Linked DNA regions of Homo sapiens: region 2 is linked to region 1. A link means that fine-mapping ties the variant in region 1 to the expression of a gene that starts in the linked region. Tissue or cell type: whole blood. Region 1 holds a variant in brackets; the other region holds the start of a gene. All regions are shown on one strand. Distances are from middle to middle.

What was found. PIP is the estimated chance that this variant, and not a neighbour inherited with it, causes the effect.
Region 2: PRELID1 starts here. The variant in region 1 is fine-mapped to the expression of PRELID1 in whole blood (TOPMed, PIP above 0.99).

Annotation. Positions count from the first base shown.
Region 1 is chr5:177,280,101-177,285,100 of GRCh38, reverse strand. NSD1 (nuclear receptor binding SET domain protein 1) reads right to left here. Exons shown (of 23, transcript NM_022455.5): 18 at 4,267-4,536; 19 at 2,520-2,636; 20 at 1,173-1,314. Among named protein-coding and RNA genes, the nearest start is that of RAB24, 21 kb to the left of the region's middle. The variant C/T (reference allele first, on the strand shown) is at 2,769.
Region 2 is chr5:177,301,887-177,306,886 of GRCh38, reverse strand. PRELID1 (PRELI domain containing 1) reads right to left here and starts at 3,088. Exons shown (of 5, transcript NM_013237.4): 1 at 2,810-3,088; 2 at 2,037-2,262; 3 at 903-1,016; 4 at 711-789; 5 at 1-465. The coding sequence starts at 2,901. The coding sequence ends at 317. RAB24 (RAB24, member RAS oncogene family) reads left to right here and starts at 3,168. Exons shown (of 8, transcript NM_001031677.4): 1 at 3,168-3,715; 2 at 3,810-3,878; 3 at 4,057-4,135; 4 at 4,243-4,310; 5 at 4,391-4,490; 6 at 4,709-4,759; 7 at 4,900-4,962. The coding sequence starts at 3,599. It also overlaps a transcript of MXD3 not described here. RefSeq lists enhancers at 1,958-2,027, 2,038-2,107, 2,258-2,317, 2,338-2,387, 2,498-2,597 and 2 more and silencers at 2,828-2,967, 3,078-3,157, 3,208-3,277.

The DNA of each region.
Region 1 (5,000 bases):
CAAATTAGCTTCTTACTATTTGTCCTGGTTACAACCATCTCGCTACCCCGTTAGAGAGACAAGCACCCAGGTGAGCCATGACAGAGCAGTGAATTCTCCAAAGATCCTGTTCTTTGACATCCTAGAGGTTGAGAGGTTTTTGTTGTTTTGTGTGTGTGTTTTTAAGAGTCAGAGTTCTCACGATACTACCCAGGCTGCTTCTCAAACTCCTGAACTCAAGCGATTTCTGGCCTCAGCCTCCTGAATAACCGAGACTACAGGCATATACCACCACACCCAGTGGTTTATTTTTAAAATAGCCTTGGGTCCATAACCCATAAGATATGGAAGAGTGAGAGATCAATCTTTGGTTTATAAAGTGGAAGAAGAGCAACTTCAGGAAGGTGAGAAAGGAGACTGAAGAGCTAGTAGTTTCTAAAGCAAACCTATTAGTGGTAAGTTCATATGAATGTGAAAATTTGTTCCATTAAAACCATCCATGTTCCGAAGACACTGTGCTAAAAGAAATGAGCCAAGCTAAGCGAGGTGGCTCATGCCTGTAATCCCAGCACTTGGGAGGCTGAGGCAGGAGGATCACTTGAGCCCAGGAGTTCCAGACCAGCCTTGGCAACATAGCGGCAAGACTCCGTCTCTACAAAAAAAAAACAAAAAACAAAAAACCTGGGAATGGGGACATGTGCCTATAGCCCTAGCTACTCAGGAGGCTGAGGCAGCAGGATTGCTTGAGCCCAGTTTGAGGCTGCAGTGAACTGTGATGGTGCCACTGTAGTGCAGCCTGGGCAACAGAGCAATGCTCTGTCCCTAAACATTAAAAATGAATCAATGAATGAATGAAATGAGGTGGTCAGAAAAGGACAAATATTGTCCATTTATATGAAGTACATATAGTAGTCAAATTCAGAGACAGAAAGTAGAATGGTAGTTGCCAGGGGCTGTGAAGAAAAAGAAGAATGGGGACTTAGTGTTTAGTAGGTATAGAGTTTTAGCAGGGGAAGATGAAAAGAGTTCTGGAGACGGATGGTGGTGATGGTTGCACAAAAATGTAAATGAACTTAATTCCAGAGAACGGTACATATAGAAATGTTTAAAATTATAATCTGAGGAAGCTGTTTGTAAAAAACAAAAGCCCTGAAATTCAGATGTCAGCTGCAGAATCCTGAAATGATTCTTACCTGCTTTAATGTCACTTAGTGCAAAAAGGCCTACACGGGTATCTCCATTCACAGACCACTTCTGTGTTTCACAGTTGGGCTGGCAGCAATGATTCATGAACCGAGCATAGTTTCCTTTGGGACCAGCATCAATGATTCGGTCCTAGAATTCCAAAAGAAGCTACACATCAGACTTCCTGAGACCTCTGCTGTGGATTAAAATTTGACTATTCTCTCTAATAAGTTGGAGTTTCTATTTGTAAAGACTGAACCTCTCAGAGAAAAGATCCCAAAGAACTTTGGTTCTCAAAGTGTGATCCCTGGACCAGCACCATCACCATTTGGCAATTTGTTAGACATGCAAATTCCTGGGTTGTGCTTCAAATACACTAAAGCAGAGACTGTGGGGTGCAGCATTCTGCGTTATATATAACAAGGCTGCCAGGGGTTTCTGACTACATTGAAGTTTGAGGACCACTGCCCTACAAATAGCAGCTTGTCCCACTTTCTATTTAGGTAGTTTCAACCCAGATGCACATTAGAAATCACCTAAGGAGATTTAAATACTAATGCGGAGTCCCAATCCCAAAGTAAGATCAGAATATCTGGAAGTGAAGATCTCACAAATCCTAGTGCACAATTTGAGAAATGTTTACAAAGGTAAATACCAAGAAAGGGTTTTATTATAAAAACTAAGGCCAGGTGCGGTGGCTCATGCCTGTAATCCCAGCACTTTGGGAGTCCGAGGCAGGCAGATCACCTGAGGTCAGGAGTTTGAGACCAGCCTGGCCAACATGGTGAAACTTTGTCTCTACTAAAAATACAAAAATTAGCCGGGCGTGGTGGCGGATGCCTGTAGTCCCAGCTACTTGGGAGGCTGAGGCAGAAGAATCGCTTGAACCCAGGAGGCAGAGGTTGCAGCAAGCCGAGATCATGCCACTGTACTCCAGCCTGGGTGACAGAACGAGACTCTGTCTCAAAATAATTTTAAAAAAAAATTTACATAATCTTATCAGTAAAATAATTAAATATTTAACAATTTTCTCAACTGTAAAATAAAATAAAAAAGAATTATGTACTTTTCTGAGTTCAAACTTGTAATCCTGTAGAAAAAATACTCAAAGATATAAGCTCCAATTTTCATTGAATTGTTCAAAAACAATGCTAAAAGCTGCTGTATTGCCTCTGGCCATGAATACCCAGAAAATGAGCACTCTTACCTACTCCAGAACCCCAATCCAGCAATCCCAATGGGTATGGGAAAAGACCCTACCTTGGGAACTGCGTTACATGCCTACAAATACTATGGCTGGGACAACACAAATTTACAATCTTGTAACAGTGAAAACAGCATTTCCCATTACTTACTTTGTCTAGGGTGAGCATATAGAAATTAGTGATATCATGTTCTTGAGCATAGCGAATTCGAGCTCTGCATTCTTCTTCATCTATAAGCTCACCCACATACTCATTCACAAATTCACCCTAGAACAAGAAATACCTCCTGACTTAATGGCAAAAAAGGACACTGGTATCCAAATGTATACATTTTTTTAAAAAATTAATGAAAACATCACATTCTACAAAGCAGATTACATGAGTATAATTTTAGGCACA[C/T]ATAATTACTTTACGATCCCCAACTATTTGATAATGAGAAACACCTCCTTACTCCTACCACTGTCAGCAGCAGAAAGATTAGGATACACTGGATACTAAAGATCCTCCAGAATGGAAGATTAGTAAGTAAACTAGAGCGTCCTTATAAAGAGAGATGGATGGCCAATCTCTACCTGCCCCAGAGCCCGAGAATTGGCTTCCCCAAATAAACTATGTTCATCTTCCTTGGTGCTTGCTCTGCTCTATATTTCAAAGTACCATCCTCCCTATTCATTATGCTACAGTCACTCTGGCTTTTCACACGTGTTCACTCCTAACCTGCAGGGCTTTAATGCACCTTGCCTGGGTCAACAGCTACTTATATTTCAAGTCTCAATTTAAAATAGCCTCACAAGTCAAGAGTGATGGCTCATGCCTGTAAACCCAACACTCTGGGAGGATAATTTGAGCCCAGGAGTTTAAGTCCAGCCTGGGCAACATGGTTAGACCTCACCTCCACAAAAAATACAAAAATTAGCCAGGCGTGGTGATGCGAGCCTGTAGTCCCTGCTACTCAGGAGGCTGAGATGGGAGGATCACTTGAGCCTGGAAGTTGAAGGTTGCAGTGAGCGGAGATGGCACCAGTGCGCTCCAGTTTGGGCGACAGAGTGAGACCCTCTCTCAAAAAATAAATAAAATAAAATATAATATCATCAGAGACAAACTAGTTTCAGTTCCTTTGTCACACATCTCTAGAGCCCTTTATACTTTCACACTGGGAGATGATTTGTTCAATATTTCTCTCCCTCCGAAATGTAAATTTTATGAAAGTATAGGCCATATCTCTCGTCTTGGTTAGTGCATCCCCAGCACAATACCTGGCACATACAGTAAATATAAAAATAACTACTTAGCAAATGACTAAACGCCAACCCATATACACTACATTTCCTGGAAACCAATAAAATTCTTCAGAAAATGTAACCAGAATAAGGCTTATTTTATTAAAAAAAAAAAAAAGACTATACAATATTATTTATTTATTAGAAACTTAGAGATCCTGCCAAGTTTTAAGTTGAAGACATGACTGCATTTTCATCCAATAAGGCTTAACCTTCTTATCCTTCATGTTTCATGAAGCCAGACCTGTTTTTTCCTCACTAAAAATGTTTTATTAGTAGGTGGATCAATGTCTCTGTATCATGTGCTCACTGTCATCTCTCTTAATTACCAGCTGTAGGATATTCACAAAAAAGCAAACAAAGCCATAGCATCTCTATGAATGTCCCATTTTTTCCAACCTCCTACACAGTGACCATGATCAATACAAAGGACTTGGGAGATCAAAACCATCCATTCGTAAGCCTCTAAACGGTAGAAGGATATGGCAAGACACAACAATAAGGTTAATTATTAACTGTGTTATTTTCTTCTATGATGAATTTTCTAATGTCAAGGATCAATGATATCAAGCAACTGCAAAGAGGAGAAAGTATATGGTAATTTAGCTTTTTCTAACCTTTTTAATATCTGTTTTTGTCCGTAGACCCCAACCCCGCTGTAATGTGCGGAAAATTTCAACCTCTGGATATTGGCGCTTGGAAAAGCACTGGTTTTGACAGCGCCCTCCGGCAGGACACACTGTGGGGTGGCACTCATAGAGCAGCATGCGGTTGATGCATTCAGAGTCTATCCCACAGGGGTTCTCATCAGTAGCTTTACAGTTGCAACGGGGTATTTCAGATAAGTCTGCAGTGAAGATCTGTACCCTGCCAATAGGACGGTTTACCTGGAAAAGTAACACAAAGTACACCGCATAAAACAAGTCAGCAGAAGACAATTCACGTCCTGAAAAAGGCAAACTTTTTTTCCTTGAAGTTGCAGCCACATTTCCCATGATTTTGAACTATCAACACTTAGTTTCATATAAAAACAGAGCCTCACTTGACATACAAAATATGAACTCCACAAGAATTGCTTGAACCCAGGAGGCGGAGGTTGCAGTGAGACAAGATTTCACCACTGCACTCCAGCCTGGCCGATATGTTGAGATTCCATCTCAAAAAAATAAAATACGAGCCAGGTACGGTGGCTCACGCCTGTAATCCCAGCACTTTGGGAGGCCGAGGCAGGTGGATTACGAGGTCAGGAGATTGAGACCATCCTGGCTAACACGGTGAAACCCCGTCTCTACTAAAAATACAAAAAATTAGACAGGTGTGGTGGTGGGCGCCTGTAGTCCCAGCTACTTGG
Region 2 (5,000 bases), 22 kb before region 1:
AAAACCAAAAGCCCTGCCCTTGTCGGGCTTACAGTCTAGCACTTACCGCCAGTTAACCTGCAGGCTACCTGGAGCCCCGGGCAAGTCACCGCACCTCTGTGCCTCGGTCCTCAGCTGCCCAATGGGAGAATAAGCAGACCTGGCTCAGACATGAATCATGTGCTTGGTGTACTGCAGATGCCAAACTGCATCCCCACAACCCACCACGTAGACAGCAGACAGGGCTGGAAGTTGATTTTTAATGATAAAGTACAATGAAGGGAGGGCAGAGAGGCTAAGCCTAGCTGTCTGGGGTGCTGTGGTGGTGGTAGACTGGCTACACAAACTGTTGCTGCTGCTGCTGCTTCTTGGTGGCCGCCTTGCTGGCGAGGTCCTTGGCCTTCTCTGTAGCTGCCAGTGCCGTCTCCTTTGCCTTCTCCTTGGCTTCCTTGGCTGTCTCAACAAGTGTTTTGGAAGGGGCCTCGCCTGTCGCGAACGGCAGGTGGCTGCCTTTAGAAGATGCCTGAAAGACCAACCTAATTTCCCTCCCCCATGACACCAATCTCCTCTGGGCCAGGCTCCACTAAAAAGGTGGTATTCACCCTCCTCCCACCCCCAGTACAGACAAGGAGTCCCAGCTCAGAGCAGGGCAATGACTAACCCAGACTCCACGCCCGCTAGGCTGAATGAGCCTCTCCCTATGAGGAATATCCACATACCCAGAAACTCACCTTGCAGCTTAGCCAAGATATATTCAAAACCCTTCATAGTCTTGGTCACGTTGCTTTTGAATCGGGCAAGACCAAATTCCTGGCATGAGATGAGAATGGGAAGGATACTGAGTTGCCCACTGACCCCAGCCCAGCCCCAACACCGAAAGCACTGGGTCCCAGAGCCCCAGCAGCCCCAACAACACTGCTCACCTGGACAGCTCTGGAGACACCAAATAAGCTAGAGGAGACCCAGGCTTCCCGGCGGATTTCAGTCCAGCCACTGTTGTCAGAGTTCACACAGTAAACACATCGTTCCTCCACCACCTATGCAGAGGCCAACCACAATCGTGGAACAGTCTTTCATTTTGCCAACTTGCACATAAATCTGACTCCCTGTCACTTTTCATGAGGCGAAGCAATACAATGAAAATCCATTCCTTCCCCTGACTGCACCTCCAAGTGGCACTGACAGAACAAGAAGCCATAAATAAGGTCGTTTTGCTCTCGAAAACCTCTCTTCTGACTCTTAAACTAGAAGGCAAAAGGTCTCTCTCTTGAGATCAACAAAGGGCCTTCCAGCCCATCCTGCTCCTGGATTTTGTTTTGTGCATCTAGACGCATGCAGTGTTTTAGCCGCCTTCCACCAGCTGCAGCTCTGGAGCTTCCTGACAGTCCAAATAAAAACATTTGCCCGGCGCGGTGGCTCACGCCTGTAATCTTAGCACTTTGGGAGGCCGAGGCGGGCGGATCACTTGAGGTTAGGAGTTCGAGACCAGCCTGGCCAACATGGTAAAACCTTGTCTGTACTAAAAATACAAAAATTAGCCAGGCGTGGTGGTGTGTGCTTAGAAATCCACCTCTTCAGAAGGCTGAGGCACGAGAATTGCTTAAACCCAGGAGGTGGCAGTGGCAGTGAGGTGAGATCATGTCACTACACTCCAACCTGGGTGAGACTCTTGTCACCAGAAAAAAACAAAAAACAGAAAAAAAAAAAAGAAAAGCACTGCCTCCGCCACTCAGCATCACTCCTGTGAGTCCAACATATATCTGTGCCATAGATGCCAGATGGGAGCGCTTTGCATTTAGAACTTAGGACAACTCCGTAAGATAGGTACCCCTCCCCCACTGTATGAATGAGTCAAAGGACAGGTCCAGAGAGGATGGCCAGCTGAAAAGAAGAAAACCTGAGGTCATACTCTACAGCTGTCAACCCTCAGTAACCCAGACCTGCCTCCGGCCACAAAAGCTGCCTTATGGCTCTCTAGCCACATGTATCTGAGGAGCTCTCTATCTCGGGGGGAGGGGAGAGGGGGAGGTGCAGAATCACAACAGGAGGTGTCTCACCATCAGCCGGGCGTGGTTGATGTTCCAGGTGAAGGTAGTCATGGTCTGATTCTGTGGGTCCACAATAGAGTCCTCCAGGACGTACACCGAGTGAGCAACATTGGCAGGAAATAGTCGCTCGGCCCAGCGTGGCATCCTGTTGGTCTTGGTCAGGAGTCGCCGGGACAGCAGTTTCTGGTCAGGGGTCACCTCCCGGTGTACTATGTCTTCCGTCAAGACATGTTTGCTGCAGGTGTCAGGGTGAAGGTGACCCTCAGAAGCTTGCCCCTAAGAGACTGCCCGAGGGGATTCCCATTTGGAGGCTCCGGGCCTAGAGAGGCCACGCCTTCCCGTAACCTTGCAGGGTGGTATGTGCTATGGTTCAAACCAGAGTTAAGGGCCCATCCCAGGGCAAATTCCCACTCCCGCCATCTGACTGACCTGGATTCCTGCCTTCTAGCAGGAATGGACCTCATGATTTATTGCACCCCAGGAAAGCGCCACGGGCAGAGAAATAGGATTTCCAACTCCAAGATCCCTCCCAACTCCCATACTGCCGCCTCTTCTTGTCTCACCACACTGAGAAAAGAATCTTACACTAAGGTCTCAAGTAAACCACCACCCAGGCCCAACCTCCCTTCAGGACCTTGCAGGCCTGGCCTGGCCGCTTCCCCGATAAGGTCTACCTAGGATTCGATATCGAGTCCTTCCTGGTCCCAGTACTTGGGGGTTACCCATAATTCGATCTCCAGATAGCGAGATGGCGCGGTTTTGCTCTTCCAAATACCACGTACCTATAGGGATTCGGGTACCGCTGCCAGAAGGCGGCGAACACTTGGTCCCAGGAACTCCGGAGCACGCTCTGGCCCAGGAAATACTTCACCATCGTCCCGGCCGAAGCGGGCTCAGCACCCGCGCAGCATCAGGGGTGCGGAGCCTGGGAGGCACGCGAGGGCCGGGCCGGGCCGGGGCTCGGCGCACACCCGCCGCCAGGCTCGTAGCTCAGTCACCACCGCACCGCGCCCAAGCAGCTGCCGCCGCCGCCGCCGCCGCCATGAGTTGTCCGGCCGCGCGCCACTTCCGGCGCAGCCACACAGTAGCCACCGCTTCCGGCGCCCGCGCCACGTGACCTTGCGGCCCCGCCCCCTCGCCCTCTAGCCCCCTCCCGCGGGAGTCGCGGCGCTGCGGGTAGGAGCCGGGTTGCGGGAGACCCCAGGTTCGGTTGGGATTCCCAGCCAGAACGGAGCTTAAGCCGGGCAGGCGAGCGAATGACGGAGTAGCGAGCTGCACGGCGGCGTGCTGCGCTGTTGAGGACGCTGTCCCGCGCGCTCCCAGGCCGCCCCGAGGCTTGGGGTCTTCGAAGGATAATCGGCGCCCGGGGCCGAACAGCGGGGGCACACGGGGCGCTGCCGAAGTGCAAGGCCACGGCCAGAGCTCGAGCCCGACGCGCTGTCTGGAGTCGTAGGTTGGCGCCGTTTGGGGTCGGGGTCTGAGGCTTGGGCGCTGCCTGGGCCGAGCGGAGATCGGGGTTTGCCTCCCGTCCCCGCTCAGGACCCTGACGTGGCTGAAGCGGCCCCGGGAGCATGAGCGGGCAGCGCGTGGACGTCAAGGTGGTGATGCTGGGCAAGGAGTACGTGGGCAAGACTAGCCTGGTGGAGCGCTACGTGCACGACCGCTTTCTGGTGGGGCCTTATCAGAACGTGAGTGCATCCGGAGGGGCCAGGCACGGTGGGCGGGGGAGTGGGGGGCCGGTAATCTGCACCTATGGCCCCGATCTCTTCCCTCTCGTTGCAGACCATCGGGGCCGCCTTCGTGGCCAAGGTGATGTCGGTCGGAGACCGGACTGTGACATTAGGTATTTGGGTAAGTCCCCCGGCCATCTATTCTTGGGAGACTCATTCCTGAGGAGGTGTAGGTCCTGCCTATTACTGGTTGATTTGTGGCCTCACAGACCCATTTCTCATAGACCCGTTTCCTTATCTGGAAAATAGCGGGGTCTGGAGAACGTGGCCTTAAGTTTGACTCAGGCCTTACTCTTTAGGACACAGCAGGCTCTGAGCGCTATGAGGCCATGAGTAGAATCTACTATCGGGGTGCCAAGGCTGCCATCGTCTGCTATGGTAAGGGGGGGGGGGGTTTGGGCTGTCTCACAAGAAAAGATGGGTGCCAGGCTAGCCAGAGAACAGCCCTTGACCACTTGGTTGTCTCCTGCATGCCGCACACCAAGACCTCACAGACAGCAGCAGCTTTGAGCGAGCAAAGTTCTGGGTGAAGGAACTGCGCAGCCTAGAGGAGGTAGGTGAACAGACCTCACTAGAACACTAGGGGCTGGGGTTTTGTTGGCCTGTGGAGGTGACCCTTGTCTTCTGCCTCAGGGCTGCCAAATCTACTTATGTGGCACCAAGAGTGACCTGCTGGAAGAAGACCGGAGGCGTCGACGTGTGGACTTCCACGACGTCCAGGACTATGCAGACAGTAGCTGCTCCTCAGCCCTTTGGGGGGTGGGGGTGTGTGGCTGTCTGGGTGGATCAAAGAAAATAGGGACTGCCTTGGCTGCCAGGGCAAGGTGCTCTAGGAGGTCTTCCTGGCCTCCTTGAACTGTGGGGTCCAGGAGACTCCCTGAACTGCTAGCCCTCCCTTTTGTCTGTTTATCTAATTCTCAGGTATGAGGCTTTAGTCACTTCTCTTTACAGATATCAAAGCTCAGCTCTTTGAAACATCCAGCAAGACAGGCCAGAGTGTGGGTGAGTGCTGTGCTGGAGCCTCACAGCAGGAACATGCAGGGGCACCAGAGGAAGCTGAATAGGGCACAGAGGGCTGGGTCACTGGGAGATCCCAGGGCTACTGGCATTGGGCCCTCGCTGATCATCATTTTTCCTGCCAGACGAGCTCTTCCAGAAAGTGGCAGAGGATTACGTCAGTGTGGCTGCCTTCCAGGTGATGACAGGTGTGTGCTTCCCCAGCCTTTATGGAGACTTACTCTAG